Linked DNA regions of Homo sapiens: all the other regions are linked to region 3. The links come from fine-mapping of genetic effects on gene expression. A gene starts in region 3. Each other region holds a variant in brackets. All regions are shown on one strand. Distances are between the middles of the regions. Region 1 holds the start of PROZ (protein Z, vitamin K dependent plasma glycoprotein). Region 2 has its middle 10 kb from the start of MIR8075. Region 3 holds the start of CUL4A (cullin 4A).

The links.
Region 1: its variant is fine-mapped to the expression of CUL4A in whole blood (TOPMed, PIP 0.98).
Region 2: its variant is fine-mapped to the expression of CUL4A in whole blood (INTERVAL, PIP above 0.99). The same link has a PIP of 0.9 or more in macrophages and monocytes after LPS.

What each region holds. Positions count from the first base shown.
Region 1 is chr13:113,155,501-113,166,007 of GRCh38, forward strand. PROZ (protein Z, vitamin K dependent plasma glycoprotein) reads left to right here and starts at 3,148. Exons shown (of 8, transcript NM_003891.3): 1 at 3,148-3,230; 2 at 4,514-4,677; 3 at 5,448-5,472; 4 at 7,509-7,622; 5 at 9,013-9,144; 6 at 9,553-9,620. The coding sequence starts at 3,161. LOC124903216 (a long non-coding RNA gene) reads left to right here. Exons shown (of 4, transcript XR_007063880.1): 3 at 317-380; 4 at 1,030-1,110. It also overlaps a transcript of PCID2 not described here. RefSeq lists enhancers at 2,631-3,208, 3,785-4,362. The variant G/GC (reference allele first, on the strand shown) is at 4,774.
Region 2 is chr13:113,267,640-113,278,146 of GRCh38, forward strand. It overlaps the pseudogene LDHBP1. Among named protein-coding and RNA genes, the nearest start is that of MIR8075, 10 kb to the left of the region's middle. RefSeq lists enhancers at 6,343-6,842, 7,795-8,089. The variant G/T (reference allele first, on the strand shown) is at 5,254.
Region 3 is chr13:113,204,438-113,214,944 of GRCh38, forward strand. CUL4A (cullin 4A) reads left to right here and starts at 5,176. Exons shown (of 20, transcript NM_001008895.4): 1 at 5,176-5,338; 2 at 5,536-5,651. The coding sequence starts at 5,191. It overlaps PCID2 (PCI domain containing 2), which reads right to left and starts at 4,232. Exons shown (of 14, transcript NM_001127202.4): 1 at 4,162-4,232. The coding sequence starts at 4,197. RefSeq lists enhancers at 3,287-3,937, 3,938-4,587 and silencers at 4,122-4,411, 4,672-4,941, 5,042-5,371, 5,432-5,671.

The DNA.
Region 1 (10,507 bases), 49 kb before region 3:
TGTAGGGAACAGGCCAATTCAGAGATGTTGAAATCTAAAACATAGGTCCCAGAGTTGATTGAACAGGTATTTAAATAGGGACTGCGGCAAGATCTAAGTATTCAATGACCAGGTTCTCCATAGGCTGCTCATTTCAGGTTCCACACAAAGTTGTGGGGTCAGTTGATTTAAGCTGGGGACCCCCACAGAGGACACCCCAACATCTGAAGGACACGACAAAGACCCCAAAGGAAGGAAGATTCTCCTCAGGTATACAGAAGGAAAGTAAACCAGTCAATGGAAAAAGTGTCCCAATGTTGGTTGGTTTGTTTTTCAGAACAGAAGAGGGTGACAGAAGAACGATTATTCATATGAGAGATGAGGAAGATGAGTAGAACGAGGTGAATCTTAATGTTTGGACAATTTATTATTGTAGAATTTTTGGTCCAAAGGTGGTATCTTTGAGAAGGCAGATGAGAAAATTAAATCACCACATACAACACGGTCAGTCCACGTACAACACAGTCAATCACAGCTGTGGCCTCGATGTTGATGCCTTCCTGTATTAGTCTGTTCTCATGTCACTGTGAAGAAATACTTGAGACTAGGTAATTTATAAAGAAAAGCGGTTTAATGAACTCACAGTTCCACATGGCTGGGGAGGCCTCAGGAAACATAATCATGGCAAGCAGGCACCTCTTCACAGGGTGGCAGGAGAGAGAAAATGTGTGTCAATCACAGGGGGAAGCCCCTTATAAAATCATTAGCTCTTGTGAGAATGCACTCACTATCACAAGAACCACCTCCATGATTCAATCACCTCCACCTGGTCCTGCCCTTGACCTGTGGGGATTATTACAATTCAAGGTGAGATTTGGTTGGGGACACAGAGCCAAACCATCCCCCAAAACTCACGTTGAAACCTAACCCCCTGTGCAATAGTACTAGGAGGTGGGGCCTCTGGGAGGCACTCTGCCTTCATGGATGGATGACTGCCCTCCCAAAAGAGGCTCCAGGGAGCACCCACATTCCTCCCTTCCACCATCCAAGGACACGTCTATGAATCATGGGCCGTCACCAGACACTGAGTCTACTGGAGCCTTGATCTTGGACTTCCCATCCTCCAGAACTGTGAGCACTACGTTTCTGTTTATCGTAAATTACCCACTCTAAGGTGTTTTGTTACAGCAGCCCCAACAGACTAAAATGGTCCATGAGGGAAGAGGTTGTAGCTCAGATACCCATGTCAGGCATATAGGATGTGCTTAATTAACACTTATTGATCGAATGTGTATGTCCCTGTCTGCCTTTCCATTTTTAGGCAGCTATTGATGGTTTTTAAACTATCCAGCAGAAGTATTTTTAATGTAAATTTCCATGTGGGAATACATTTTCACACAAAAAAAGGCACCTTTTCTTAAGTGAAGGCCACGTAGATTGCCAGGCTGGTGCAATTCACCCAAGAGCTATCCTATACAATCAACTTCTGGCTTTCAAATTATTTTAACTCACTCACTAAAGATAAACTTTATTTTCTTTTCCCAGCTTTTTAAAGCAAACTTCACAACTTCAGTGTATTTGCGGGCATGCCCTCTTAATCAAGGGTGTCAGCTTCTTAGTTTTCTTCTGTTCCCACTTTAACAAAATTGTATTTAGAATCCTTTCATTGAGTTTTGCCACCTTTGAGTGTCATTCAATCGAACAATATCTATATGCTGACAATGCTGTCATTTCATCTGTTACCACCTGAATCTCCACTGTGAGTCCCAGCTTCTCGGATGCCCACTCCTGTCTCCACCTGGACATCCCACAGACACCTCAAATTTGCCAAACCTCGCTTCCCTCTGCCCTCCTGGAGCTTGGCCGTCTCAGCACACGCACTGCCATCCTCCCAATCGCTCAGCCCAAACCTTGGAGCCGTGCTGCCCGACACAATTCATCATGAATCCCATCAGCTTTCCCTTCCTGAAGCATCCAGACTGCAAACGTGCTTCCTGCTGCATGGCTGCACCCTCACCCCCTCCTGGACTAGCCGGCAGCCTCCCTTTTGACTTCTCTGGAATGTTCTGTTCTCCACACAGCAGCCCAGTGATCCCTTCAGAGCACAAATCTTTCCATGTCAATTCCTGTTCCCTCCAATATCTTCCCAACACAGTGAAAATGAAACACCAGGTTCTTACCTCAGGCTTCAAGGGCTGATATGGTTTGGCTGTGTCCCCACCGAAATCTTATCTTGAATTGTAATCCCCATAGTCCCCACGTGTCCTGGGAGGGACCCGGTGGGAGGTAATTGAATCATGGGGGTGGTTTCCACCATGCTATTCTTGGGATAGTGAGTGAGTCTCAAGAGATTTGATGGTTTTATAAGGATCTGGCATTTCCCCTGCTTCAGTCATTCTCTCTGCTGCCACCCTGTGAAGAGGTGCCTTCTGCCATAATTATAAGTTTCCTGAGGCCTCCCCAGCCATGTGGAACTGGGAGTCAACTAAACCTCTTTTCTTAAATTACCCAGTCTTGGCTATTTCTTCATAACAGTGTAAGAAGGGACTAATACACAGGGCCTACATCTGAAAGCAGCAAACGACAACCCTGGGGCCAAATCTGGCCCCTTAATAGCTCTTATAAATAAAGCTTTATTGGCACACAGCCAAGTGTTCATTCATGATTGTCTATGCTGCCTCTGCTACAATGGTGCTGAGCTGTAGTGACAGACACTATTTGGCCCTTCCCCGCTTTCTCCCTCCTCCCTCCCTCCCTTCCTTTTCTCCCCTTCCTTCTTTCCATCCTCCTGCTTTCCCTCCCTCACTCCCTCCTGTCTCTTTCCCTCGTTCTTTTCTGTGTATTCCACACACACCTAGAACGTAAGCTGCATGTGACTTTGTCTGTCCCGCCCAGTGCTGTGTCCCCAGGGCCTATCTCACCTCCATTGACCACACACGGGCATGGGTGCCACCTTCCACCTTGCACCTGCTGCCTTTACCTTCTGTTCTCTGTCTCCCTAAATATCTCCCAGGGTCCTCTGAGCCTTCACCGTTCATTTCTCTGCCTGGCCTCAAACAGAAAACGTCAGGAGGGAAGCACACAGCTGCACAGGTCGTGCCCCGAGGCTCCTGCTGCCGGCACCTCCCCCAGCCTGGACTTTGGCTGTGTTTGTAGCCCTGTCCCAGCGCTCCGGGTGGGAATGGCAGGCTGCGTCCCACTGCTCCAGGGCCTGGTCCTGGTCCTCGCCCTCCATCGTGTGGAGCCCTCAGGTAGGCATCTGGCTTACCTGTCTGTTGTGCCTGTGCTGTGTCTTTCTTGACTCGGTCCATGGTGGATTTGTAGATGAGGCTTTTTCCAGGAGCCAGAGGAGCCCTGAGTGCCCAGACTAGTCTTAATTCCCCTGAAAAAGCTGTTTGGATCTTTATCATTTGGTGACAAGTATTTGGGACATGATAGTGTCACTTGGGGTCCTCCCAAGAGATGCCCAAATGGAAAGAAGCCTGTGTGCAGGGGATTCAGCCGGGAAAGGCCGGGGAGAGGGGAGGGGGAAAGGGGGAGGAGTGGGGGGAGGCCTGGGTTGGGCATTGGACGAGGGGAGGGGGTGGGGCAGGCTGAGCCCAGACTGCAATGTGGGCAGAGAGAGCCTTGGCCAGGCCAGCCAGGAATGCCCAGTCTTGAGTCAGGAGACATAGCCAGGGAGCAGCCACCCTGCCTGCCTGCCACCCTTCTACCACCAGCCACTTCACTGAAGGAACGACATGGACTCCATTCTGACTCTGCCTGCACAGGCGTCCAGGAAAGCTGCAAGTCAAAACACCCAGCATCCCCGCTGGCCCCATGGTCTCCCGCTGGCCCCATGGTCTCCCACCCTGAGAGGGTGATCCCCCCGCCCTGCCCTGCCCAGCACTTACCGTAGCCGGACTTAGCTGAGCCCCCCCTGCTGTAACCCTCAGCACCGAGAGAAAAGGAGGGAGGATGGGAAGGGCCTGGGCTTTGACCCTCCCGGAGAGGGAGAGAACATGCTTTGGGACCCTCAGGTGGGAAGAGGCTCCAGAGACCACTGCCGCGGGTCAACTCATTTGCCTTCTCCTCCTGGAAATCGCAGAGCCTGCTGCAATGTATAAGTTTCTTCTTTATGTGTTTTATCAAGATGTTAAATGCTGCGCACAGAGGCAGCACAGGAGCTGATGGCTCTTGGTCCCCAGTTCTCAGTACGGGGACCTTTGACCCCAGCTCAGCCTTCCTTCGCACTCAGACCCAAAACCCAGTTGGAGCCCTCCCTCCTCCACTTTCCTGACTGAGGCCCGTGGCCTCTCTGCAGAACCTTAGTGTATCCGCACTGATCCTGGGGCTGATCCATTCGCCCAGAGGATGAAGTGCTTGCCTACCTCGGGGGAGGGAGTAGCGGGGTGGCCCTGAGGCCCTCGCAGGCTGAGAGCCTGTGGAGACGGACGGGGCTGGGGCTGGCGGCCGGCCGGGGAGGAAGCCAGGCAGCTCTGGAAAGCAGGGCCCTCGGTGCTCCCAGTCACCTGCCTTCTTGTCTCGTCTGTAGTATTTCTCCCGGCCTCCAAAGCAAACGACGTTCTGGTGAGGTGGAAGCGTGCGGGCTCCTATCTTCTGGAAGAACTCTTCGAGGGAAACTTGGAAAAAGAATGTTATGAAGAAATCTGTGTCTATGAAGAAGCAAGAGAAGTGTTTGAAAATGAAGTAGTCACTGTATGTACCCCCACCACAAACCACAGGCCTCCTCATTATTTAGACTTCTGCTGGCCCAGGGAGCATCATTTCTCAGAGATTAAGCTTAATTAATTA[G/GC]CCTATTTACTTACCGATGAGGTTGACACAATCCCAGTTTTACAGATGAGGAAACAATTTAGAGAATCGACTTAATCCACCTTTCCCTACAGCAGTGAGTGGGGCTGGAAGTCAGCTCAGAGCCCACTGGACTCATTTCTTCAGGTCAGGCAAGGCCCACACACTGATCAGACACCCAGCATACATTTTCTTTCTAGGCTTCAAGTCTGAATAATTCTCCTAATTTTAGATACTCCTACCCCAAACTAAGTGTCCCCACTCCCTACAGAGGTATATATCTTTAAAATTCAACTCGGTTTATAAAAAGCGAAAAGGTGATGTGACTTCTATATCATGTGCTTTTGTGGAGGGTGGCGTGGAGATTGGCCCTAGAAGGGAAGGGCCACGTTAGGGGCTGTGGGTGGTGGGTTTGTGCCATGTCATAGACTCTGGCCTTCCTCAAATAGGTGGTGGTAAGCACATGTTGAGTAATATATCTTACAGATACATTTAGTTACTATACATTTAACATAAACAAATAGGCTGTAAAACAGGAAAATTGTGCATTGTTTCAACCACTATTGTCCTATTAAGTGAATAAAATCAACATTTTCTTACCTTCAAGTTCATCTACAGGAAAGAATATAGAAAAACAAATATCCCATTTGTAACATTTTTATGTTTTAACTCTAAAGGATGAATTCTGGAGACGATATAAGGGTAAGTGGTTTCCTTCGTCTCCTCAGAAGTATTAATTCCTCGGGATGAGGTGCGTGGGTGGGCTTAGGACGCTTCACGACCCCAGCTCAGCGGATGCCAAGCCTCTGGCTCCAGGACCCACGGTGTCTCTCCAGGGAAGGGCAGCTCCGACTCTCCCCAAGGACCAGGTCAGGAAGCCCCCGGGCTCTGCCACCAGGGCCACAGGCAGTGCCTGGTTTGTCTTGCCCAGTGTCTGGGTAGTTTCTTGGCACTCTGGGACATGGGCCACAGGCCAGGAGGGCCCCCCCAGAGCAGCTCCTCCAGCCGCCTGGCTCCTGGGCTCCTGGGAAGCCTCATGCTGCAGCAGGGTCAGAACTCGTCTCAAATTTTGGAAAGTCATGGCCCCGATGGAGACTTTGGTTAGGAGACTCCTCCCAAGGGAGGAGCTCTAGGTGGGCAACTGCAGAAGAGCATGGGACAGAAGTAACACAGATGGAGACCCACGGGGCTGGGGGAGGCCAGGGTAAGGACCCACCTGGGAATGAGTAAGCAAAGAGCTGCAGCCACCACCAGACAAGCACGGGGACAACTGGGCACAGAAGGAAGCGGGAGAGGCAGGGAAGGCCGGAGAAGGGCTGATGGGGCGGGACAGAGGGGACCGCGTGCGGACGAAGAAAGGGCACCCAGCAGAGTGGGAGGCACTGGCAGCCAGGCCTTACATCCGGAGCGGGGAGCGTCCTGGGGGCCAGGCGATGGCATGGGGAGCAGCATGAGCAGGCTCAGTCCCCATTCCTGCCACCCCCTGCCCCCCCGTCCTCCTCCTGCTCAGGTCCCCGTCCCTGCCACCTCCTCACATCCTCCTCCTGCTCAGGTCCCCGTCCCTGCCACGTCCCCCCATCCTCCTCCTGCTCAGGTCCCCGTCCCTGCCACGTCCCCACATCCTCCTCCTGCTCAGGTCCCCGTCCCTGCCACCTCCCCCCATCCTCCTCCTGCTCAGGTCCCCGTCCCTGCCACCTCCCCACATCCTCCTCCTGCTCAGGTCCTCGTCCCTGCCACCTCCTCACATCCTCCTCCTGCTCAGGTCCCCGTCCCTGCCACGTCCCCACATCCTCCTCCTGCTCAGGTCCTCGTCCCTGCCACCTCCCCCCATCCTCCTCCTGCTCAGGTCCCCGTCCCTGCCACGTCCCCACATCCTCCTCCTGCTCAGGTCCCCGTCCCTGCCACGTCCCCACATCCTCCTCCTGCTCAGGTCCCCGTCCCTGCCACGTCCCCCCATCCTCCTCCTGCTCAGGTCCCCGTCCCTGCCACCTCCCCACATCCTCCTCCTGCTCAGGTCCCCGTCCCTGCCACCTCCCCACATCCTCCTCCTGCTCAGGTCCCCGTCCCTGCCACCTCCCCACATCCTCCTCCTGCTCAGGTCCCCGTCCCTGCCACGTCCCCTCATCCTCCTCCTGCTCAGGTCCCCGTCCCTGCCACCTCCCCACATCCTCCTCCTGCTCAGGTCCCCGTCCCTGCCACCTCCCCACATCCTCCTCCTGCTCAGGTCCCCGTCCCTGCCACCTCCCCACATCCTCCTCCTGCTCAGGTCCCCGTCCCTGCCACCTCCCCACATCCTCCTCCTGCTCAGGTCCCCGTCCCTGCCACGTCCCCTCATCCTCCTCCTGCTCAGGTCCCCGTCCCTGCCACCTCCTCACATCCTCCTCCTGCTCAGGTCCCCGTCCCTGCCACCTCCCCACATCCTCCTCCTGCTCAGGTCCCCGTCCCTGCCACCTCCCCACATCCTCCTCCTGCTCAGGTCCCCGTCCCTGCCACGTCCCCCCATCCTCCTCCTGCTCAGGTCCCCGTCCCTGCTCCACTCTGTCCTCCTCCTGCTCTGGTCCCTGTTCCTGTCACCCCACCCTCCTCCTGCTCAGGTGCTCAGGTCCCCGTCCCTGCTGCCACCCCCCACTCCATCCTCCTCCTGCTCAGGTCCCCATTCCTGTCACCACCCCCACCCTCCTCCTGCTCAGGTCCCCGTTCCTGTCACCACCACCCCAACCCCCATCCTCCTCCTGCAGGCGGCTCCCCGTGCATCTCCCAGCCCTGCCTCCACAACGGCTCTTGCCAGGACAGCATCTGGGGCTACACCTGCACCTGCTCCCCCGGCTATGAGGGCAGCAACTGCGAGCTGGGTGAGGCCCCGGCCGTCCCCTTCCCCCAAGGGCCTCCCTGGGCAGGTGGGCCTCACATCCTCGGCCAGAGTCCCAATGGGCCCCTCCTGAGGTGTAGCCATGAAGGTGCCTGTGTGAACCGCGATTTGGCTCACCCCAGGGGATTCCTCTCATCCCAACCAGATTCTCCTCCAGAAACCACGCCGGGGGCTGGCTGCATTCTGAGCTGCCCCTTCCAGACAGGCCCCCATACTTTTCATAGCAGGGGCCCCTCTCCTCCCCCCACCACCTCAACCATTCACAATCTGCTCACAGGCTGGGGGGGTCACACACAGGCGTCCTCAGTGCCAGACTCCCAGTGGGAGACTGCAGACAGGGAAGACGCAAAGCACGTAAACAAATATCCTTAAATACCCGCCAAATGTCAGTGTCCATCATCGCCAACTACAGCAACAAGCGTGCTCCGCTCTCAGCACCACTGGTCAACTTGGAGCCCGTTTCTCTGGGGAAAACCTTCCTCCCAGCCGAGCCCTCTCCTCCGAAGTCCAGATTTCTGCTCCATCTGCCTCCTTGATGCCCCAGCTAATGCCTTCACAGACACCCCAAATTTACCACGTACCAAAGGGGGCTTTGACCTTCACCCACCATGTGCCCCTTTCTTAATCTTCTCCCTCTTGGTGGAAAGCCCCCATCCCAGCTGCTCAGCCACCACCGATGTCACACTAACCCCCTCCCATCCCACGTCCCCTCCTTGAAGAAGCAGCAATTTAAAGGGAATAGCCAATGCAAGCCGGCAGACAAAACAGGCGCGTGGATTAGTCCATGTGGAAAAAGGACAAATAGAAGTGTCATCACTCATGGAGTCTTTTTTTTTTTTTAATTTTTATTTTATTTTTGAGATGGAGTCTCGCTCTGTCGCCAGGCTGGAGTGCAGTGACGCGATGTCAGCTCACTGCAACCTTTTGCCTCCTGGGTTCAAGTGATTCTCCTGCCTCAGCCTCCCGAGTAACTGGGACTACAGGCACGCGCCACCACGCCTGGCTAATTTTTGTATTTTTAGTAGAGATGGGGTTTCACCATGTTGGCCAGGCTGGTCTTGATCTCCTGACCTCGTGATCCGCCCACCTCGGCCTCCCAAAGTGCTGGGATTACAGGCATGAGCCACCGCGCCCGGCCTCACTCACGGAGTCTTTGTTCTACATGCACATTCCTGAAATACGGACATGTGGGAAACACTGACACAGAGGACAACGATCTGAAGAGAATGAGAACACATGGACCAACACACCAGAACTCTTGTGTGCAAGGCTGTGATAAAATGAACATGGACCAACACACAGAACTGTGTGCAAGGCTGTGATAAAATGACTATTTCCAAGCTAGCATTTCCTTTTTTTTTTTTCCTTTTCAGCTAAAAATGAATGTCACCCAGAGCGGACTGATGGGTGTCAACACTTCTGCCTCCCAGGACAGGAATCCTACACATGCAGCTGTGCTCAGGGCTACAGGCTTGGTGAGGACCACAAACAGTGTGTGCCCCACGGTGAGTGCTCAGACCACAGCGGCCTCCAGCTTCCAATGCCAGCGACCCCGTCCACATCCTCCTTCCTTCTGTAGTACTGGGTGAAGCCCGCGGATTTGTGATAAGCAGTTGCCACGACTCAGAAGGTGGTCCGCGTCTCCACGCTGGAGCAATGGCCATGCTAGAAAGTGCAGTTTCTGTCACTAGTGCTTGCTCGGACCACTCTGAGCTAAACCATGAGTGCTGTGAGGGGTGGTTTAACTCCAGTCTGTGTGTCTGTGAATTACTGCACATTCATCAGCATTAAGGATAAGATTATAATGGTTAGTACCATAGACGGAATTATGCAACGGTTAACACCATAGACAGAGTCCGATATTCGCTGAGAAGGCGCTGATTTTTATTCTCATGTTGCTGCCGCAAATGCAGACCAGTGTGCCTGCGGGGTGCTGACCTCTGAGAAGCGTGCACCGGATCTACAGGACCTCCCGTGGCAGGTAACAGAGCGCTCTCCGCGTGCTTCAATTTATTGTTATGACTTTCACCTCACTTGTCATTTCCTAAATAGAAATGTTGACAACTAAGTGAATCAGGCATCCTGACTTTGATGGGCTACTGACTGCACTGACCAACCTCTATTCACACTTCCAACCATGTTCTAATGCCGAGTTCATAACTAATACAAAAGGACAGCATTATTTACAGCCCCCAAGACCTTTCCTCTGCAGTTCCAAACTGTTACCAATGTCATTTTCTCAGAACATAAGCATCTCAAAATCTCTGCTCTCGGCTGCTGGCCTGGCATTCTAGCTTTGTTACTTTGTTCACTAAATTTCTCTAGTTTGGCATTCATTTTTGTTCTCCTTTTCCCCTCCTTGGCTGGTTTAGAAGTTAACCATTCATTTGTTTTTGGTTTGTTTTTTTTGAGATGGAGTCTCAATCTGTCACCCAGCCTGGAGTGCAGTGGTCCAGTCCCGGCTCACTGCAACCTCTGCCTCCTGGGCACAAGCGCTTTCCCTGCCTCCACCTCCTGAGTAGCTGGGATTACAGGAATGTGCCACCACGCCCGGCTGATTTTTATATTTTTAGTAGAGACGGGGTTTCACCATGTTGGACAGGATGGTCTCGAATGCCTGACCTCAAGTGACCCACCTGCCTTGGCCTCCCAAAGTGCTGGGATTACAGGCGTGAGCCACCACGCCTGGCCTCATCATTCACTTTCTGTTTACTTAATGGTCACTCTTGACACATAAACATCCATATTTAGCACAAGTAGTCAGCTATTTCTCCCTCCTCAGGCTAATTCCCAGCACCTCATTCTGGGTCCATTTGCTGTCTGGCCAGTATTTTATTCTTTTCTTGCTTTCTGTATATCTTCACAAAA
Region 2 (10,507 bases), 63 kb after region 3:
GCCTTCGGATAAGTGAGTTCTTCATTAGCTTTAAGAGAGTGGGAGCAGAGGAAACGGGTACCGTGAGGGCAGACCTGCTTTCAAGAACAGATGAACAGCGGCTGAGAATGACTCCAAGAGGTCGCAGGAGCAGAGCTGCATTTCAGTGGCAGGTGACTGGGCATTGTCCTGCAGCAAGGCCCTAATATCCCAGGAGAGGGCAGGATCGAGGGCACAGGGAGTGGGGGCAGGTGAGGGCTGGCCATAGGTGTGGTGCCGGGGGAGACATTGGTTGTGACGGTGACCATGGCCCTAGGCTGGAGGGTGGGGGGGTCATGTAACATGAAGATTTAGGAGGTAAGCTTGGAGGGCGCAGCTGTTGGCAATGATGGTCTGGGTGAGGACAGACGGGGAACTGGGGCCAGAGCATGGGAGACAAGACCTGATGGTCGTCCAGCAGTCAGGGACGGTGACAGGAGCCAGTGATGGAGGCCCTGAGTGCAGGACAGCCCTGAGGCCTGGAGGTGGGCCAGCCAGTGAGAAGGGCGCACCCCCGCCGGGGTGTCCAGCAGCATGGAAGGAGCATGGCCTGGAAGCAGCAATGGGCAGAAGGGAGGGCCTCGCCCCAGATGCAGCCCCAGGGGGAGGGTCACGAAGTGAGCAGCGGGCCTCTGCCCCCTCCACGGAGGCATGGGCACCCTGTGGTGGGTTTGGAAGGAGAAACCAGGCAGTGGCCAGGCCCAGGCCTTGTGCAGCAGCCCGGGAAGTTCAGGGGAAGAGGAGTGCAGGTGTTAGGACCGCCTAGTAAGAACGTTTAGGAGATGGAGGTTTTGTCAACAGACTGAATTCAGAAAGGGCTGGAGGGGGCAGAGGTGACAGTTGGGCCATGTGAGAGTGAGAGGCCCAGCAGTGATGGGGGACAGGCTGGTGGGCTCTGGTGAGGGAGGTCAGCTCGAGGGATCTGAGACATTGTGAAATGATGGTCTCTCAGGTAAATTTGTGAGGGTATATTAAATTCGAAAATGCCCACACCTTTGACCCAGTAAGTTCCTTTCACTCACGTAGAATGATTTCTAGTACTGTTCTCGCACACACAGAAAATACCTTAAATGTCCTTCAATAAGGAAACAGACCATGTGCTAAGTCCATGCATGTGTGATATTCTGACCATGCAGCTTGAACCAAGATCTAGATGTCCATTTGGAGTGAGTGTCAAGAAATACCACGTAAGAAAAGAGAGCAGTGCCGTCCTGCCACCACTGTGTGTGCGGCCCGTGTACGTGTGAATAACGACGGCTCAACTCCAGAATGGAGTTCTGGAAGGCTGCGAGCAGGTATGCGAGAATCTTTTCTATGCATATACCATTTTGTATTTTTTTAATTTTGTGTCAAAAGAATGTTTAAAAGTAATGACAAATTATTAAGAAAACAAAATGGCCCCACCCACTGTGTTGTTTCTTTACCATAAAACACAAGGAATCAGCCAACCCAAAGTAATTGCACTTCCCCGCCCGCTCTCCTCCCAACCTAATCCACTGTTGTCATCAGTTATTTTATGGGTTACCTTTGTAATTGTAATGGACATATTGAAACCCTATTCTCTCGATCCATGAATATACTCAGTTTCTCATGAAAACCTCCTGTATTGGCAGGCCAGGCACAGTGGCTCACACCTGTAATCCCAGCACTTTGGGAGGCCGAGGCGGCGGATCACGAGGTCAGAAGATCAAGACCATCCTGGCTAACACAGTGAAACCCGTCTCTACCAAACAAAAAATTAGCCAGGCGTGGTGGCGCACGCCTGTAGTCCCAGCTACTCGGGAGGCTGAGGCAGGAAAATCACTTGAACCTGGGGGGCAGAGCTTGCAGTGAGCCAAGATCGCACCACTGCACTCCAGCCTGGGCGACAGAGCGAGACTCTGTCTCAAAAAAAAGAGAAATGTAATCCTTTGTTTGTGCAGCTCAAAGAATATTCTAAGCATCAAAGACAAGCTATTTCTTTCCACATTCCATTAAAGCTGAAAATGTATGTCATGTTTTAACTTGCTTTATATTTGCACTATGGCATTTTTGTCCAGCTTTTTTTTTTCCTGGAGTTTTTAATTGCTACTGATGACCAAAAAAAAAAAAAAAAAAAGATGCCTTTTGTCTTATCACTAAGATAATTTCCTTATCACAGTTTGCATAAACCCAATTTTTTTCTTAAAACACACATTTCGGAGCTGGTCACGGTGGCTCAAGCCTGTAATCCCAACACTAGGAGGCCGAGGCAGGAGGATCATGAGGTCAGGAATTCCAGACCAGCCTGTCCAACATGGTGAAACCCCATCTCTACAAAAAATACAAAAATTAGCTGGGCGTAGTGGCTCGTACCTGTAGTCCCAGCTACTTGGGAGGCTGAGGCAGGAGAATCGCTTGAACCCAGGAGGATGAGCTTGCAGTGAGCCGAGATTGCACCATTGCACTCCAGCCTGGGTGACAGAGCGAGACTCTGTCTCAAAAAAAAAAAAAAAATCATTTATCAGAATCCTCTAATAGTGGTTTTCTTGTTGTTTTGGGGTTTTCGTGGTTTTTTTTTTTATATGGAGGCTCACTCTGTCATTCAGGCTCGGGTACAGTGGTGCAATCTCAGCTCACTGCAACCTCCGCTTCCCAGGTTCAAGTGATTCTCCTGCCTTAGCCTCTGGAGTAGCTGAGATTACAGGTGTGTGCAACCACACCTGGCTAATTTTTGTATTTTTAGTAGAGACAGGGTTTCACTGTTGTCCAGGCTGGTCTCAAACTCCTGACCTCAAGTGATCTGCACGCCTCAGCCTCCCAAAGTGACAGGATTACAGCTGTAAGCCACGGCACCTGGCCCTCGGATAAGTAGTTTGGTTTTGGTTTTGAGACGGGAGTGCAGTGGCGCAATCTCGGCTCACTGCAACCTCAGCCTCCTGGGTTCAAGCAATTCTCCTGCCTCAGCCTCCTGAGAAGCTGGGATTACAAGCGTGTGCCACCACGCCTGGCTAATTTTTTTTGTATTTTTAGTAGAGATGGGGTTTCACCATATTGGTCAGGCTGGTTTCAAACTCCTGACCTTGTGATCCGCCTGCCGTGGCCTCCAAAAGTACTGGGATTACAGGCGTGAGCCACCGCGCCTGGCCTAATAGTTTTTTAAATTGAACTATGGGCCAGGCATGGTGGCTAACACCTATAATCCCAGTACTTTGGGAGGCTGAGGTGGAAGGATTGCTGGAGGCCAGGAGTTTGAGACCAGCCTGGATAACAGACCTCAGCTCTACAAAAAAATTTAACAATTAGCCAGGCATGCTGGTGCTTGCCTGTAGTCCCAGCTTCTCAGGAGGCTGAGGTGGCAGGATCACTTGAGCCTGTGAAGTTGAGGCTGCAGTGAGCTATGATCGCACCACTGCACTCCAGCCTGGGCGACAGAGTGAGACCCTGTCTCAAAAAATAAATTAATAAATAAAAATAATATAAATAATACAATGAATCAGCTGGGCGCAGTGGCTCACGCCTGTAATCCCAGCACTTTGGGAGGCCGAGGCAGGCGGATCATGAGGTCAGGAGATTGAGACCATCCTGGCTAACATAGTTAAACCCCATCTCTACTAAAAATACAAATAATAATAATAATACAATGAATCATTTGCCTCTTTTTTTTTAAGAGACGAGGTCTCACTGTGTTTCCCAGGCCAGAGTAGAGTGCCCTGGCCATTCCCAGGCACAATTCGATGCACCCCTACTTCCGGCCACATCATTTGGCTTTTGAGCCCCTGCATAGCTGTGATCCTGGAACCCATTTTCTCTGCATTCCTGTGTAGTTCCACTCCTTGGATCTCAGTCTTCTCTTTTTCTTGTCTTCTGGTTTTATTAAGTAGATTCTTTTTTTTTTTTTTTTTTTGAGACAGTCTCACTCTGTTGCCCAGGCTGGAGAGTGCAGTGGCACGATCTCAGCTCACTACAATCTCTGCTTCTTGGGTTCAAGCGATTCTCCTGCCTCAGCTTCCCAAGTAACTGGGATTACAGGTACACCACCACGCCCAGCTAATTTTTGTATTTTCAGTAGACATGGGGTGTTGCCATTTAGCCAGGCTGGTCTCAAACTCCTAACCTGCCTCAGCCTCCTGAGTAGCTGGGATTACAGGCACACGCCACCACGCCCAGCTAATTTTTGTATTTTCAGTAGAGAAAAAGCCAGGCTGGTCTCGAACTTCTGACCTCAGGTGATCCACCCACCTCGGCCTCCCAAAGTGCTGATTATAGGCGTGAGCCACTGTGCCGGGCCTCATTAGGTAGATTCTTAAATGATCTTCTCAGAAAGAATGCCTGGGAGACAAATTTCCTGAATCCTGGCTGGACTGTTTTTATTTTACACTTGTGTTTGATTGTTGGTCTACATAAAAACTCTAGGCTCAAAATCACTTTCCCTCAGAACTTTGAAGGGATTGCACTGCCATAGTCTTCTATTTTCTAGCTCTAAAGTCTGATGCCATTTTGTTAACTAACCTGTAGTTCTTTCATGTCACTTTTGGAATCTTCTGTTCCTGGACTTTTGGTATCTCACAAGAGTGTCTCGGTGTGTGTCCACTTTCATTTGGCCTCTGCCAGCCACCCACTGAGCCTTCAGACTGGAAGACTCCGGACTTCTGTTCCAGGAAGTGTTCTTTTTTGACATTCTACATTGCCTCTTCCCCTTCAACTTCTTTGCTGTCACTTTCCTTAGCACTAATCTTTCTAAGTAAACCAACTGGAAGGTCTAATGAGAAGAAGGGCTGGCCTCACCCCTCCCCACTCATAGTTCACTGTCCATCTTTGTTTCTGGTTAGCTTTTCTCTTGGTGGCCTCTATTATCAGATTATTGTTTCTTGGTTTTCTTTTTAATAAAAGATTGTTTTATGTTTTTATATTATTTCTTATTTTTCTTTTTAATAAAAAATTGTTTTTATTTTATTTCTAGAATATCTTCTTGAACCTCAAACTGTCCTCAATGGGTTAGCAGGAATTACACGCCGGGTTCTGGGCAGAAATGGAGTCATAACTAAGCATGAATCAGGCTGCACTTTGGCCCACTTCCTTGTAACTGGAAGTCTTGTAGCCCTGGATACTGATCATTTGCACCCCCATTATTCTCATAGATAGGACCACTGACGTTAGAACCATAAGGCTTTAAACATTGCTTAATATGTTTTTCAGATCCTCAATTCCAGCAGAACAGCTGACATCAACCAGTCAAAGGCTCCCACAGGGCGCTGAGGCGGCATGAGAATGCAG[G/T]TTCTTCATCCCCCCATCCCATGATTTTAGCCTGCACTCTTCAACCCATCAGCAACTCCCACACCTCGGCCACTCCGAAACCCTTAAAATCCCCAGCCCCAAACTCCTCTGAGAGGCGCGTTCAAGGCTTCCTCTGTCTCTTGTTCAGTTCCCCTCTGGGTGTTAAGCTCCGTCTCTGCTGCAATCCCCAGTGTCTCAGTGTACTGACTTCCTGCACATCAGGCAAATGATGTTAGGATTAAAATTACACACCAGTGGGGCGCGGTGGCTCAAGCCTATAATCCCAGCCCTTTGGGAGGCCAAGGTGGGCAGATTGTTTGAGCCTAGGAGCTCAAGACCAGCCTGGGCAACATAGTGAAAACCCATCTCTACAAAAAAATATAAAAATTAGCCAGGTGTGGTGGCACATGCCTATACTCCTGGCTGCTCAGAAGGCAGAGGTGGGAGGATTGCTTGAGCCCAGGAAGTCAAGGCTGCAGTGAGCCATGATGGCACCACTGCACTCCAGCCTGGGCAACAGCGCTAGATGCCGTCAAGAAAAAAATTGAACTAGTGCCTCAGAGAGTTGTCAATTTTTTTTCTTTAAGACAGGTCTCAAGCTCAAGCACGTGTGTTGTGATCTGGGCCCCCATTCGTCAGGCTTCTGAAGTCGTGTTTTTAGGCACAAGCCTGTCCCCAAGTCTATAGCATCTGGTGCACAGTGCTCAGTAAACACTGAGGAGTGAATGAAGCAGGGCCAGTGGAAGGAACAAAGACCAGCAAGATAAGAATGGGGAGAAGTACGAGTGTGACAGAACAAAAGAAGGGAGTTTTAAGGTATGGTGAGAATCAGAAACAGACCATCACGGTGGCATCTCGGGCCATTCAGTTTGTGTGCTGGGCCCGACGGGTAGTGGGTGCGGCGAGATGTAGCTGGAGGCAAGGCAGAGGCCAGGGAGAGCTGCTCTCGGGTAATGAGAATTGAGCAAGCATCAAACTGAGCAAGCAAGAGAGAAAAGGGGAGAATCTGAGCATACGGAAAGGAGAAATAACTGCGGGCAGGTTTCCCAAACAGCAGGGGAAACCACATCCCCGCGCAGCGTGCTCCTCCCAGGGAACAGAACAGGGAAACCACATCCCCGCGCAGTGTGCTCCCCCGGCAGAGGTCCTAAGGAAGCCGAGGGGCGGACAGCCGAGCAGAGGTAAGGCTTTCTGTGGTCCGTGATGGAGGAACCAAGGCCAACTGCAGCACAAGTTGAGGGAGCATTGTACTGAGAAGTGGACGCCTGCCAGGAGTCCACTCTTCACAGAATGAACAGCACCTTCAAGGCACTGGGATCAGCAGAGAAGCTTTAACACTGGCCAGGTCCCCCCTCTGCCAGGTCCTCCATCTGTCACTCTCCAGGTGCCCCTGAGCAAATTCCTGCAATTCTTTAAACCTTGGTTTTCTTATAAGTGGAGATAATAATCCTACTTACCTCATGGGGTGGTTCCAAGTGAACACACACAAAGCTGCTTAGGACACGTACTACACACCAGCAAAGAGGAATGAGTCACAGTCACGCACAAGCACAGTGCCTCTTCATCAGGAAAACCCAGTTCCATACAAATCTAAGTGGCTTATCTTCAGAAACATTAGTGAAGAGCTGAAGCAAACACTGTCAGCTGGGAAGTCTGTATTCAGTGAACATACATTTCTGAATGGAGGCAAAGTATGCCTTTTCAGACAGAGACCTCTAGTAGGAGAAGTGCAGGAGGAAGGAGCTTCAGCTGCTGGAAAGCAAAGCCAGATAGAAGCCAGGGTCTGCCGAAGGCCTGGGGAGCGCCCGCACTTGCAAGCATTTGGGTAGACACTCACACAAATTAGCTACACAATCATTATTTTCTTTAAAAACAACTGTTGAAAGCAAAAATAATATATGTTGGCATTAATACCATATGTAGAAGTAAAACGAATGACACGACACAAAGAATGGGGAAAGAAATGGTCTGGTGAGTGTGATGAGCTAGAGATGCGTGTGACAGCCCTGGGGGAAAGGGGAGATGGTCTAGTGAGTGTGATGAGCCAGAGATGTGTGTGACAGCCCTGGGGGAAAGGGGAGATGGTCTAGTGAGTGTGATGAGCCAGAGATGTGTGTGGTAACCCTGGGGCAGCCACTAACAATACCAGAGAGAGAGGCAAAGAGAGAAAGAACAAGCCAACAGAGGAGACAAAGTATAATTTGAAAGAACACTCAATCCAAAGTGTTGACAAAGAGTCAAACTGTGAAATATTTGAAGAGATTTATTCTGAGCCAAGTATGAGTGACCAATGGCTCATGACGCAGCCTCAGGAGGTCCTGAGAACATGTGCCCAGGGTGGTCAGGACACAGACTAATTTATTTTTAGGGAGACATGAGACATCAATCAAATACATGTAAGATGTACGTTAGTTTGGTCTGGAACAGGGGCTGTGGGAGGCTTCCAGGTTATAGGTAGATCTAAAATGTTTCTGATTGGCAATTGGTTGAAAGAGTTATTATCTAAAGACCTGGAATCAACAGAAAGGAATGTCTGGGTTATAATAAGGGGCTGTGGAGACCAAACTTTCACCATGCAGATGCAGCCTCCAGGTGGCAGGCTTCAGAGGGAACAGATTCTCATGAGGCTTAAAGAGTCTGTTCTATCAATAATTCCAAAAGGCGGTATCATGAGTCATGTCTGACCCCTGCCCCCATCATGGCCGGAGCCAGCCCTTCAGGTTAGCCTTGGAAATGCCCTCCCTGATACAGCGGTCCATTCAGATGGTCTGAGGGGGCTTTGAATTTTATGTTTGTTTTACAAAAGGCAGACAGGAAATTCTTTTTTTTTTTTTTTTTCAGATGGAGTCTTGCTCTGCCACCAGTCTGGAGTGCAGTCATGTGATCTTGGCTCACTGCAGCCTCTGTCTCCTGGGTTCAAGCAATTCTCCTGCCTCAGCATCCCGAGTAGCTGGGCTACAGGTACCCGCCATCATGCCCAGCTAATTTTTATATTTTTAGTAGAGACAGCGTTTCAACATGTTGGCCAGGCTTGTCTCGAACTCTTGACCTCGTGATCTGCCTGCCTCTGCCTCCCAAATTGCTGGGATTACAGGCGTGAGCCACCGCGCCTGGCCTGGAAATTCACTTTTAAAAGGGAATAAAGAACGGATAGGACAAATGGAAATGGAAAGAGGGTGGACTTGAACCTGACCATCTCATTAATTTATTGGTAACAATGACATAAACAACACTCCAGTTAAATGCCAAAGATTTTCAAGCTGTATAGAAAATTAAGACCAAAGTATATGCTGTCTACTACAAAGGCACTGTTATTTCAAGAGAGAGGATCTCACTGTGTCACCCAGGCTGGAGTGCAGTGGCACAATCACGGCTCACTGCAGCTTCAATCTGCCAGGCTCCAGCAATCCTCCCACCTCAGCCTTCTGAGTAGCAAGTGTGCGCCACCACAACTGGCCAATTGTTTATATTTTGTAGAGATGACATCTCACTGTGTTGCCCAGCCTGGTCTCAAATTCCTGGGCTCAAGTGGATCCTCTGCCTCAGCCTCCAGAACTGCTGGGACGACAGGCGTGCGTCACCATGCCCAGCCCAGAGAGTCATTTTAATAAAGACACAGATGAGTTAAAGGATGAAGAAAGACCACGAGACGCACGCAGCTGGCATTGTCTTCTCTGTACAACTGTTACAGCAGTTTCCAGAGCCTACTCTCTCCTGGGCACAAGGGCATTTCTTAAGGAAAGACTCCTTGCACCAGCTGCAGAAGGGGCAACAGGTCCCAAACAAGCAGATCACTGTGGGCGTGTTGGAGAAGCTGGTGAGGCGCGTGCTCTCTGCCTCTGGGAAGGTCTCTGATGAGCTTGCTCTTGTGCGTGCTACGGAAGATCAGTGTAAAGGTGGCATGGTGGATCTGCAGATGGCAGCTTATTTCTTCAGACACCTAAAATTATGGCAGATAAAGATGACTCTGTGACCACTGGGCTCGCACCTGTAATCCCAGCACTTTGGGAGGCCAAAATGGGAGGATCACAAGGTCAGGAGTTCGAGACCAGCCTGGCCAATATGGTGAAACCCCATCTCTACTAAAAATACAAAAAAAATTAGCCAGGTGTTGTGGCGCATTCCTGTAATCCCAGCTACTCAGGAGGCTGAGGCAGGAGAATTGCTTGAACCCAGGAGGCAGAGGTTGCAGTGAGCCGAGATCACGCCACTGCACTCCAGCCTGGGCAACAGAGCGAGACTACGTCTAAAAACAAAAGAGTGAGACAGTCATCTCAACCTGGTACAGAGAGAGCTTGGTTGCATCATAATTGAGGTTTCCAATGCAGTGCACATTCTTACATATGTTGGATTACCCAAGCACTGTGTGATTGGAAGTGGGTGTGATCTGGATTCTGCCACGGATGGATTTGGGGAGAACACAGTGACTCAAGTGTGGCTGTGTGGAGTAGTGTGAACGTGGCAGGTGTTTCTCTCCAGGAATTGAATCCAGAAATGGGAACTAATGATGATCAGGAAACTTGGAAGGAAGTGTATAAGATAGTGGTTGAAAGTGCCTGTGGTCATCAAGCTAAAAGGATATACCGACTGGGCTCCTGGGTGAAGTGTAGCTGATCTTATTGAATCCACGTTGAAAAATCTGTCCAGGGCTCACCCAGTATCAACAATAGTGAAGGGGATGCAGGGCACCAAGAATGAAGCCCTCTGGAGCCTCCCATGTACCCTCACTGCTCAGGGATTAAACAGTGTTACCAACCACAGCTAAGGGATAATGAGGTTGTTCTGCTCAAGAAAAGTGCAGATACCCCGTGGGACATCCAAAAGGACCTCAAAGACCTGTGACTCCTAAGCTGTAGAAATTTAAAACCACAGTGAGATGAACCCTGAGCCTTCAGTGTTCATCCATATACATGCATCACCGTTTGCTTTTATCTTCTTCAGTATGTGAATTTGGGCTCACAGAATCAAATCCCATGCTTGATTTCATGCTTGCAATCGAGTCCTTGAACAAATACAATGAACCAAATGAACCATGGTAGCATGCTTCTTAACAAAAAGAAGAGAAGGCTGGGCGCGGTGGCTCACGCCTGCAGTCCCAGCACTTTGGGAGGCCGAGGCGGGCAGATTGCTTGAGCTCATGAGTATGAGACCAGCCTGGACAACATGGCAAGACCCCATCTCTACAAAAAAATACAAGAATTAGCCAGGCATGGTGGTGCATACCTATAGTCCCAGCTACCTGGGAGGCTGAGGT
Region 3 (10,507 bases):
CCTCCAAGGAGAGGCGGAGACCCCTGCTGGGGGCACTCACTGGTAGCCCTCCTTTGCCTGTGACCTCCCAGGGTGGTCCCTGCACATATGCAGGGTGATGTCGCCACATCCTGGGCTCTGCTTGGCCACACCTACCTGGGCTGCACCCAGTGTCCCACGGGTGACCTGACCAGAGGAGGGCTCAGTGCCACAGGGCCTTGAGCCCAAGGAGGGCCCCAGCTTGCTTGGCAGGCATGAATGTGTCCCAGGGGTGGTCCTATCAATGCCCCTGCCTCAATGACTAAACTGTGAGAAGACTGGGGATGTGAAGAGGAAAAGCAGGGATGGCAACGGACGGTACTTGCAAGCCCTAAAGGTGCGACTGGCGCCGCAGTGGACACAGGACCCCTAGCAGCCCAGCCACCTGGCCAACTCTTAACAGCTCATGCTGCAGAGCCTTCAGCCCTCAATGGGACCACACAACCAGACTCCAAGTGAGCACCTTCTGAGCGGCACCCCCAGGCCTGGCTCACCAGGGGATGCTCCCTGGCTCTGGCCCCAGGAAGACTTCCTTGTGGTTGCTGCATGCCCCTCACGCCCTCCAGTCTGGTCCACAGGAGGCACCATCTACTCTTGGAACTCATAACTCTTTTAAAAATTCAAAATCATTACAGGTCATGAACCTCTGAAGTCACTTCTGAATAGTCAAACTTTCCAATTCCATAAACTCTTGAAAGACAATATGAAGAACTACTGAAGATTAAGGAGTAAAGTATCTAACTCAAAGCTGATTCCCTAAATAAAGATGTTCACTACACCTGTAAAAAAGAGAGGTGTTCTTGGCAAAAGGAACATAATGAAGAAAATCTTTGGGACAAGAAAGATCATGGGGTGCCACAAGAAGATACCACTCCGCACCCAGCAGGATGGCCATAATAAAAAGAATGGAAAAAAACAAGCATTGACAAGAAAGTGAAGAAATTGCAACCCTCATACATTGCTGGTGAAAATGTAAAATGATGCAGCTAGCTGCTTTGGCATTTCTTTAACAAGTTAAACACAGAATTACCATATGACTCAGCAATTCCACTCTTAGGTATATGCCAAAAAGAATACAAAACCTGCGCAAGAATGTTCACAGCAGCAGCACAACAGCCAAAAAGAGGAAACAACTGAAGTGGTCCATCAACTGATGAATGGATAAACAAAATACTCCATACAATGGAATATCATTAGCCATAAAAAAGAACGACACACTGACACATGTTCCAACACAGATGAACCCTGAAAACATGATGCAAGGGAAAGACACACAAAAGCCACATACTGAAATCACCAGAGTCAGCAAATCCATACAGACAGAGAGCACATTAGCGGTTGACAAGCGCTCGGGAGGGAGGACCAGGGAGTGACTGCTTAATGCTTATGACATTTCCATTTGGGGTGACAAAAAATTCTGGATAATGGTGATGGTTGTGCAATATTGTGAATGTACTTAATTGTGTACTTTAAAATGGTTAAATGGTATATTTTAAGTTATGAGTACTTCGGTGGGGCAATGGTGCATTCAGCATAAGTGAAATAAACCTTCAGACTGGTGATGCCAAGTTAACAGGTAAACATGGACCAGATGATGTGCTAAAGCATTTGGAACTTTCCCTGGAGGAAACAGAGAGTCAATGAAGTTTTAGTAACAGAGGCAGATGCTCAACTCTTCTTCAATAAAATACCAGAACTATCATTTACTAAGTAAATGCATTTACTGTGAATTCATGGTCTTTTTAATTCTCACAACTTATGTGAAGCCTGTTTAGAGATGGAGAGTCACAGAAGTTAGATAACTTGTCATGGTCCCAGAATTAGTAAAAATGCCAGGATTTGGGCTGAAGTCTTATTGTCTTTAAAGTCTATGGTCTCTTTGCTGTGTCTCACTTGGAAAGGGCAAAGTAAAGGAAACCATCAACCAGTACCTGCAGCAGGGCGTCCTGGCTGGGGAGCATGTGGCAACAGATAAAGAAGGGATGGATCTGAGAGACTTCGGAGATACATCCAATTAGGTAAAGGACTATTTGCTGAGACTAAAGGAGGAGTCAATGATTTCCCCCAACTTCCTAGCTTTGATGAATGTGCAAATGATGGTTTTATTCCCAAAGAGATACAGTGACATTGGCACTTATGTTCCTATACAACAAATCAAACATGTGTTACCATGTATAACCGGTTGCCATTCTGTATCGAAGAGGCACCTATTTTCTTAAAATATTCAAGAATCTGTTAATACATAAAACTTAGGTAACATGCCAGTTCAACCAGAAATATTTTTATCCATCAGAATTAGGAGGAAGCGGACTTTTTGCTGTCTCACCCCAGTGGCTACACTGCCCTTTGCGGAGATGTAGGCATGCACATCTCCATAGAAGTCCATCCTGGGCCCAGCCCCTGTCTACTCTCTCTACTTGTTCCCTGGGTCACCCCTTCCCTTCTCAGTCTTTCCCATCATGTGACTACGAAGGAGTCTCAGGTTTGTATCTTTAACCCAAATCTGTCTGTTTAAACTTCAGTTTACACACATAGAGTAGAAGCTCGCTTATCAGTCTCACTTTAACTGACTTGAATTGGAAAAATGACTCTCTCCAATCCCTCCCTGAAATACACGAGCTGATGCCCAAGGTATGATGACGACTTTCAGCAAGTAGGCTTCACTCTAATACATCGCAAGCTTTTGCCAGCTAAGTTGTATGTGTTCTCATATCCAGATGTGTTTGTTCTCAAATCTATTTTTGCTACCCGAACCTGTTATGGTAGTTATGTACTTTTAAGCTCATCAATGAAATATGAATGCAAAAGGAAACAGTTGTTTCTCTATAAGCTAAGTTGTATGTTTTTAAAAGGCTCACTTGAGTTTGTTAAAAAAATAATTAGGTATGGGGGAAAAATTGTAAAAGATTAAGAAAATTCTAAAGATAATCGTATCAAATTGGTTCTTAAATGCCTATATCCTTGTTTAACTTTAAATAAACTGATATTGGAAAATGTTAAGTCTGCTAAGATTAGGCCAAAACAGACACAGCCTAAAGAAAAGGCCCTGGGCTTACATCAAAAGATTGGCAAGTATAGAACTTGAGGTAAGTGGTGTAAAAAAAAAATTGGCAAGTGAATGTATACTTTCATGTTTTAAGTTAAAAACATACATCCATTTCTTCGTGATTCCTGTTTTAACCAGTTTTCTCAATTAACCAAGCAACTGCTGGGCCCAATCATGTCAGACTTTTCAGCTATCAAGTACGTATCTTTACCCAGTTGTCAACAGACACCTCAAACTCAACATGCCCAAAACTTTATTTCTCCCTCCAAATCCACTCTATTCATCTTTTTCCCAGATTACAAGCCTGGGAATCATTCTTAACTCCTCCGTGTCCCTCAGCCCACCCATTCTTATTCACCACGTCTTGGTAATGTTTCCTTCAAATATTTTAAAAATCCATTCCCTATATTTCCTATCCCTGTTACCACAGTGCTGGTTCTGAAGACAGGCATAGTTTAGTGGAAAGAATATGCGTTGAATCTTTACAAGTGTCCATCTTTTAACTGTGCTTCTGCTACTTACAAGCTGTTGAACAACATCTGTCAGACGCATGTACCGAGCGATATGAAGTGTGCATTGTGCTCGGAGAGTGAAGGGCGTTAAACGACAGCGAGGACGAGGGGCACGAGCCCGGCCTGCAGCACGGCCACAGCCTCGCGCTTACTCCTCCATCGCCTCCTGGAGTCCCCGAATTCATCCCGCATCCTGCTGGGAAACAGCGTCCATCCGACACAGCACCGCCCACAGCGGGCCCTCGGCGTGGCCCGCAGGCCCTTCGGACCGCCTGGGAGCGCGGCCACACGTGCCAGCAAGTGAGGGCAGCGACCTGGGACCGCCGCGTCTACTTACACCGCGACGACTCCGCGATCCACGGACACCGCCCGGCCCCCACGGCGGCCCTGCAGGGGAGAACTCGGGCCGCCTTCCCGAGTCCCGGCCGCCGCTGTTCGGCTCGCGCGGCTGCCCGCCGGGGACCCGAACGGAAGAAGGGTGGCGAGGCGGGAAAGGAAAAGGCCTGAGGGTCCAAGGCAGGAGGGGACACACGGAACACGCCGAGGGCCAACCACGCCGCCGCGCGCTCCCCGGCTAGGACCCACCTGCTGCAGGTACTGGTTAATGGTAATGTGCGCCATGGGAGCGCCGCCGAACGGAGAGCGCCACCCCCTACGCCTCAAGCGGGCCAGCTGGCGTCACTTCCGGCCCTCGGTCCGTCTGGGTCCTGGCGCCCCCGGCCCCGCCGCGGGTGCGCAGGTTGGTTCCGGAGGGAGAACCTGGGGACCGGCTCGGCGACGCGCTCGGGCTGAGGGGGCCCGGGGTCTTTCTGCCGGGGCCCCGTCCTCTCAGCCGGGACGCCAGCGGCTCTGATTGTGTGTTCGGGCCCGCCCGGGCTGAGGGGTTTGGGGTCCAGTGGCGAGGACAGCCCCACGGCTAAACTGCCTTTCACTGCGCTGACCCTTCGTCTGCCCCTTGTGAAAACCAGGCCGCGGAGGACCCTCCGCGCCTGGCTGGGCCAGGGCCTCGGGGCGCGCGCGCCCGAGGAGGGGGAGGGGGAGGGACATGGCGCGCGCTCCCGAGCTCTCATAAGGTGCCTCCGCCGCGCGCTCCCGAGCCTGCAGGAGTTAGGGCACGTCCCGGCGCGCACCCCTGAGCCCTCGAGGTGGTCTCACGCCCGGGGTGGGGGTGCCGAGCCCTCAGGAGGCGCGCGCCCCGGGGCCCTCAGGAGGGTGTCCCGGCTCCCGATCCCCTCAGGAGGGGTGCCCGCGGCACGCATCCCCGAGCCAGGAGGGGGTGCCCGGAGCCCTGGGGGCAGGGTCTCGGTGCGCCCCCCGGAGCCGGGGGTGAGGGTCCCGATCCCTCAGGACGGGAGTCCCGGCGCGCGCCCTCGAGCCAGGAGGGGGTGTCCGAATCTCTTAGGGGGAGTCCGATCCCTCAGGAGGGATTCCCGGCGCGCGTTCCTAAGCCCTCAGGAGTAGCCGGGCGCGGCGGCGGTTGGGCTCGGGCACGCGGGCGGGGCGGGGCGGGGCGCGCGAGGAGGACGGGGCGGAGGCCGCGCGGACCGGGGCGGGCGGAGCGGAGCTCGGCGGGCGGCGGCGCTCGGGGCGGGGCGCGGCGGTTCCGGCCCAGCCATGGCGGACGAGGCCCCGCGGAAGGGCAGCTTCTCGGCGCTCGTGGGCCGCACCAACGGCCTCACCAAGCCCGCGGCCCTGGCCGCCGCGCCCGCCAAGCCGGGGGGCGCGGGCGGCTCCAAGAAGCTGGTCATCAAGAACTTCCGAGGTGGGTGCGGCGGCCGGGTCGAGGGCCAGGCGCCCCGGGCGGGGACCCCACGAGACCCCGCCCGACTTGGGGGGAAGGCCCCGAGATCCGTGCGGGCCCCGGGAGCGGGGGCGCCGGGGCGCCGGCCGGGTCGGGGGTGGCTACGCGGGGCGCTTCGCGGCGCGCCCTGAGCCGCCCGCTCTCCCTCCGCCCTGCAGACAGACCTCGGCTGCCCGACAACTACACGCAGGACACGTGGCGGAAGCTGCACGAGGCGGTGCGGGCCGTGCAGAGCAGCACCTCCATCAGGTACAACCTCGAGGAGCTCTACCAGGTGAGGCGGCGGCCGGGGCTGGGGACGCCGCTCCTGCCCCGCGTGACGCAGACGCGGCCGGGCGGCCGCTCCGGGTGCCTCGCAGGCTCTCGCCGGGGAGCGGAAAGGCAGGGCGTTTGCCTCCACTGCAGGGCCGGGAGCCCCAGAGGCAACAAGTGGTTTTGTTTATTGCCGTGGTGGAATTTTTGTTTTCAGGCTTAAGCTGCTTAGAACCATATTTAAAGTTATCCCATTACGGAAGAGAAGGAGGTGTGTTTCTAGGAGCCACGTGACTCATATTTTGCAAGTATACGGCAAATTATTTTCTCGTTATATGTAAAACTCATGACTGTGTCACTTGCCACAGTAATAAGAGGGTCTTTTCTCTGTTGTGTTTTGTGATTAATGGTTGCCTTTAAGATATTCAAACAGATTTTGAAAAAATTCAAAATTCAGAAAAAGTGGTTTTGTTCTCTGTTGTGTTTTGTGATTAGTGGTTGCCTTTAAGGTATTCAAACAGATTTGGTAGCATTTAATTCAAAGTGATGGTGTTCCGTTTCTGAAGTAACAAAAAAGTACATTTTACCATACTTGGATATTTTATTTATAAGCGACTTTTTTTCTGGTGTCTTCTTTTTGTAAAGTAACATTCATTCAGTAGTCTAATATCTATATTTTAGGTCACGATGTGTCATACAATTATTTCTATTAAAAGGCTTGAATTAAAAAAACTTTTTTTCTGGATATGCAAGTGACTGCATTGTAAAAATTATAAAAAATACAAAAAAGAAGACTTCAATCACCTATACTCCTACCACCCAAAGAAAACTACTGTTGACAGTTTGGTGTACATACATCCATTCTTTGTCTGAAGTGTAAGTGGATGATGTTTTCTTACCAGCTTTGAGATAGAGTCTACATATAATGTGCACTTCAGGAAGTTTTAACAGATGCATGCAGTTACGTAACCGGCACCACGGTCAAGATGGAATCTTTCTTGGTAGAATGGTAGAATATTGCTACCACCCCCGAAATTGCCATGACCACTTTTGCAGTCAGCCCTCTCCCCTGACTCCTAGCCCTTGGCGGTCCCCCATTTGCTTTCTGTTACTATATTTTGCGATTTCTAGAACCTTATCTAAATGCAGTCATGTATTTCATAGTCTTTTGTATCTGGCTTTCACTTAGGACAGTGCTTTTGAGATTCATGCACAACGCAGTGTGATTGTAATTTATTACCTAGTAGAATGGGTATACCACAGTTGTTTTATCCATTCACCAGTTAATGGACATTTGGGTGTCCATGTTTGGGGTTTTTTGTTTGTTTGTTCTTTGAGACGGAGTTTCACTCTTGTGGCCCAGGCTGGAGTGCCATGGCACGATCTTGGCTCACTGCAACCTCCACCTCGCAGGTTCAAGCGATTCTCCTGCCTCAGCCTCCCGAGTCGCTGGGATTACAGGCACCTGCCACCACGCCTGGCTAATTTTTGTATTTTTAGTAGAGTCGGGGTTTCGCCATGTTGGGCAGGCTGGTCTCAAACTCCTGACCTCAGGTGATCCACCCACCTCGGTCTCTCAAAGTGCTGGGTTTACCAGCATAAGCCACCGCGCCTGGCCTTGGGTTGTTTTAAATAAAGCTGCTGTAAACATTTGTGAATAACCCTTTGTTTGGACATATATTCTTACTCCTCTCAGGTGAGTTCTGCTTACTTCTTTATCTAGAAGTAAGTTCTCAGGGTCATATGGAAAATGTATGTTTAACTTTGTACGGAATTTCTTGTTTTTGCAAGTGACTGCCCCTTTTGCGTCTCTCCCAGCAGTGTATGGGAGCTCCGGTTCCACTCCGCCACCAGCGTGTGCGTCTCTCCCAGCAGTGTATGGGAGCTCCAGTTCCACTCCGCCACCAGCGTGTGGTGTCCTCAGTCTGTAACTTTAGCTGTGCTTGTGGGTGTGTGGTGGAGTGTCATTGTAGTTTTAGTTTGCATTTCCCTCTGATGCTAAGCATCTTTGTATTTACTTGCCATTCTATGTATCTTCGTTGACGAAGTGTCTATTTAAATATTTTGCTCATTTTTATTGGGTTGGTTATTTTCTTATTATTGAGTATTTGAGTTTATTATGTATTCTGGATACAAGTCCTGTATCAGATATTCGCCTTGCAAATACTTTCTGCCTAGTCTTCAACTTGTCTTTTGATTCTCTTAACTGTGCCATTTGAAGAGTAATTGTTTTAAGTTTTCAAGTCACATGTATCAGTTTGTTCTTCTATGGATTGTGCTTTTAGTATCCAAGAAATCTTGCTTAATCTGAGGTCACAAAGTTTTCTCTTATACTTTCTTCCAGACATTTTAGAGTTTTAGGTTTTACATCTAGGTCTACGATCTATGTAGAGTGAATTTTTGTATATATTGTGAAATACAAATCTAGAGTCAGAGTCGGGTGCAGTGGCTCATGCCTGTAATCCCAGCACTTTGGGAGGCCAAGGTGGGTAGATCGCCTGAGCGTCAGGATTTTGAGACCAGCCTGGCCAACATGGTGAAACCCCATCTCTACTAAAAGTACAAAAAATTAGCCGGGCGTGGTGGCAGGCACCTGTAATCCCAGCTACTTGGGAGGCTGAGGCCGGAGAATCGCTTGAACCCGGGAGGCGGAGGTTGCAGTGAGCCGAGGTTGTGCCACTGTACTCCAGCCTGAGCAACAGAGTGAGACTCCATTTCAAAAAAATACAAAGAAAAGTCTAGAGTCAGTGTTTTCCCTGCAAATGTCCAGTTTTTCAGTCTCTTTTCCCCTACTGAATTGCCTTTGCTCCTTTGTCAAAAACCACGTAGGAGTAGGAGGAGTGAGTTGTGAAATCAGGGTGTGTTGGCCCCCCAGCTTCATACATTTGCACAGGTTTCTGGCTATTCTTGGTCCCTTGTGTTTCCATGTGAATTTTAGAATCGGCCAATTTGTATAAGAAAGTGTGCTAAGATTTTGATTGACGGTATATAGAATCTACAGATCAATGTAGGAGAATTAAATTCTTAACAGTATTGAGAGTCTGGGCTCAGTGGCTCACACCTGTAATCCCAGCACTTTGGGGGGCTGAGGTGGCCTGATCGCTTGAGCCCAGGAGTTCGAGACCAGCCTAGGCAACATGGTGAAACCCCATCTCTACAAAAAATTTAAAAATTAGCCTAGTGGGGTGTTGCATGCCTGTAGTCCCAGCTACTCAGGGCCCCCACACCACAACCTGGAAGCTCTTCACACAGGAAGCTGAGCAGTTGGGGCCTGTTTGTCTCCCATCTTTCTGAGATTCACTGTCTTTCATAGCCCAGTACTCAGTGCTTCGAAAACTGTTGCTTCGTATATTTTGCCTGATTTTGTGGTTATTTCAGGCAGAAAGTTAATACAGTTCTTGTACTGTGTCTTGACTAGAAACGAGTCCCACCTGAACTCTCAGAGGTCTTTGGTTTAATAAAATATGATACCTTACAGCTAAAGCTTCTTACTACTCTTTTCCTGGAGATTTGGCTGTCTGATATCTGCTGCCTCATTATTTTTACTTAAAAAGGCGGAATTACTTTGCAACACCTTGTACACAGTGATATGTCTTATAAAACAATCACTAGATATTATGAACAATGTTTGTAGGTGCCTTAGGTGTCTGTCTTGAAACCCTGAGAACTAGGAGTGCTTACCCCAAAATGACAGTCACTGGTTCCTCCTTGGAATGAGACATCGCAAATTCCAGGGGCATCTCTGGAGGTGCTGCCCCACCAGGGGATATGTGGAATCAGTTGATTCACTTACTTGTGATCATCTCTCCACGCACAGGTGGGCTTCTGGCCTCTCACAGAGTCTGAAGCATGAGCTGCCTCAGATCTATTGGAAGCAAATGGGATAGAAATCTAAGAAAAGCAAATGTGAAATTACTGATGTCTGATCAAGCAGGCAATACATTTGACTTGGTGTTTCAAAATAAAGTCTCAGTTTTTGTATAGGTGGGGTGGTGTATACTTTGCCAAAGAATCTTATGTGAAAGGACCAATTCTCACCCAAGTTTGAAAGGTTTGGTTTCGTGTTTGGTTTTTGGTTTTGCTCACTCTCCCTCTACGTCTAAACACCTTAGGAGTCCTGTCACTTACACTTTTTGGGCCTCAGCTGGCCTGTTGTTTCTGTTTGTTACTTTGTTTTTATCATTTTCCTCCTGTAGTGTGTAGAGGAGAATGTTGTGAAGGCATGGATCTTTTCCATTGAACGACCTGAATTTCGGTCTGTAATAACTAACTCCTGAAGAAAGTGCATCTTCTGTGTCTTGTGTCTCTATGTTTTAGTCCTGCTTGTTGCTAAATGAGACAACAGAAAACTGAAGACTGCATTTCTAGAAAGGTTTCAGAGAAAGGCTGTGTTTTGATTTAGAACTGGTTTTTTTGTTTTTTGTTGCACAAAAACAAACCTCTCAGGCCCTTTAAAAAAAAAGAGAGAGAGAGGTGTGGCCTCCCTATGTTGTCCAGGCTCCTTGGGAACTCCTGGACTCAAACAGTCCTCCTGCCTTGGCCTCCCGAAGTGCTGGGATTCCAGGCGTGAGCCATTGCACCCGGCTGACATGCAAGTTCTGAGGAAAGCCAGGCTGTCTTTCTTGAGTCACGGAGTAGTTGTCTTCATGACATGTTGATACCAGGTGATAATGGTCAGTGAAAGAGAGAGGTTAGTCCTTTGTATTAGGTGGCATCCTTCCCTCACACCCAAGCTGCAGGCCCAGCGTAGGAATGGGACCTCCACAGCCACACAGGTCTCATCCTGTGTGGCTGTGAAGGTCGCTATATGACTCTGGAGGTAGCTATGTGACTATGGAGGTCTCGTCCCGTGTGGCTGTGGAGGTCGCTGTGTGACTG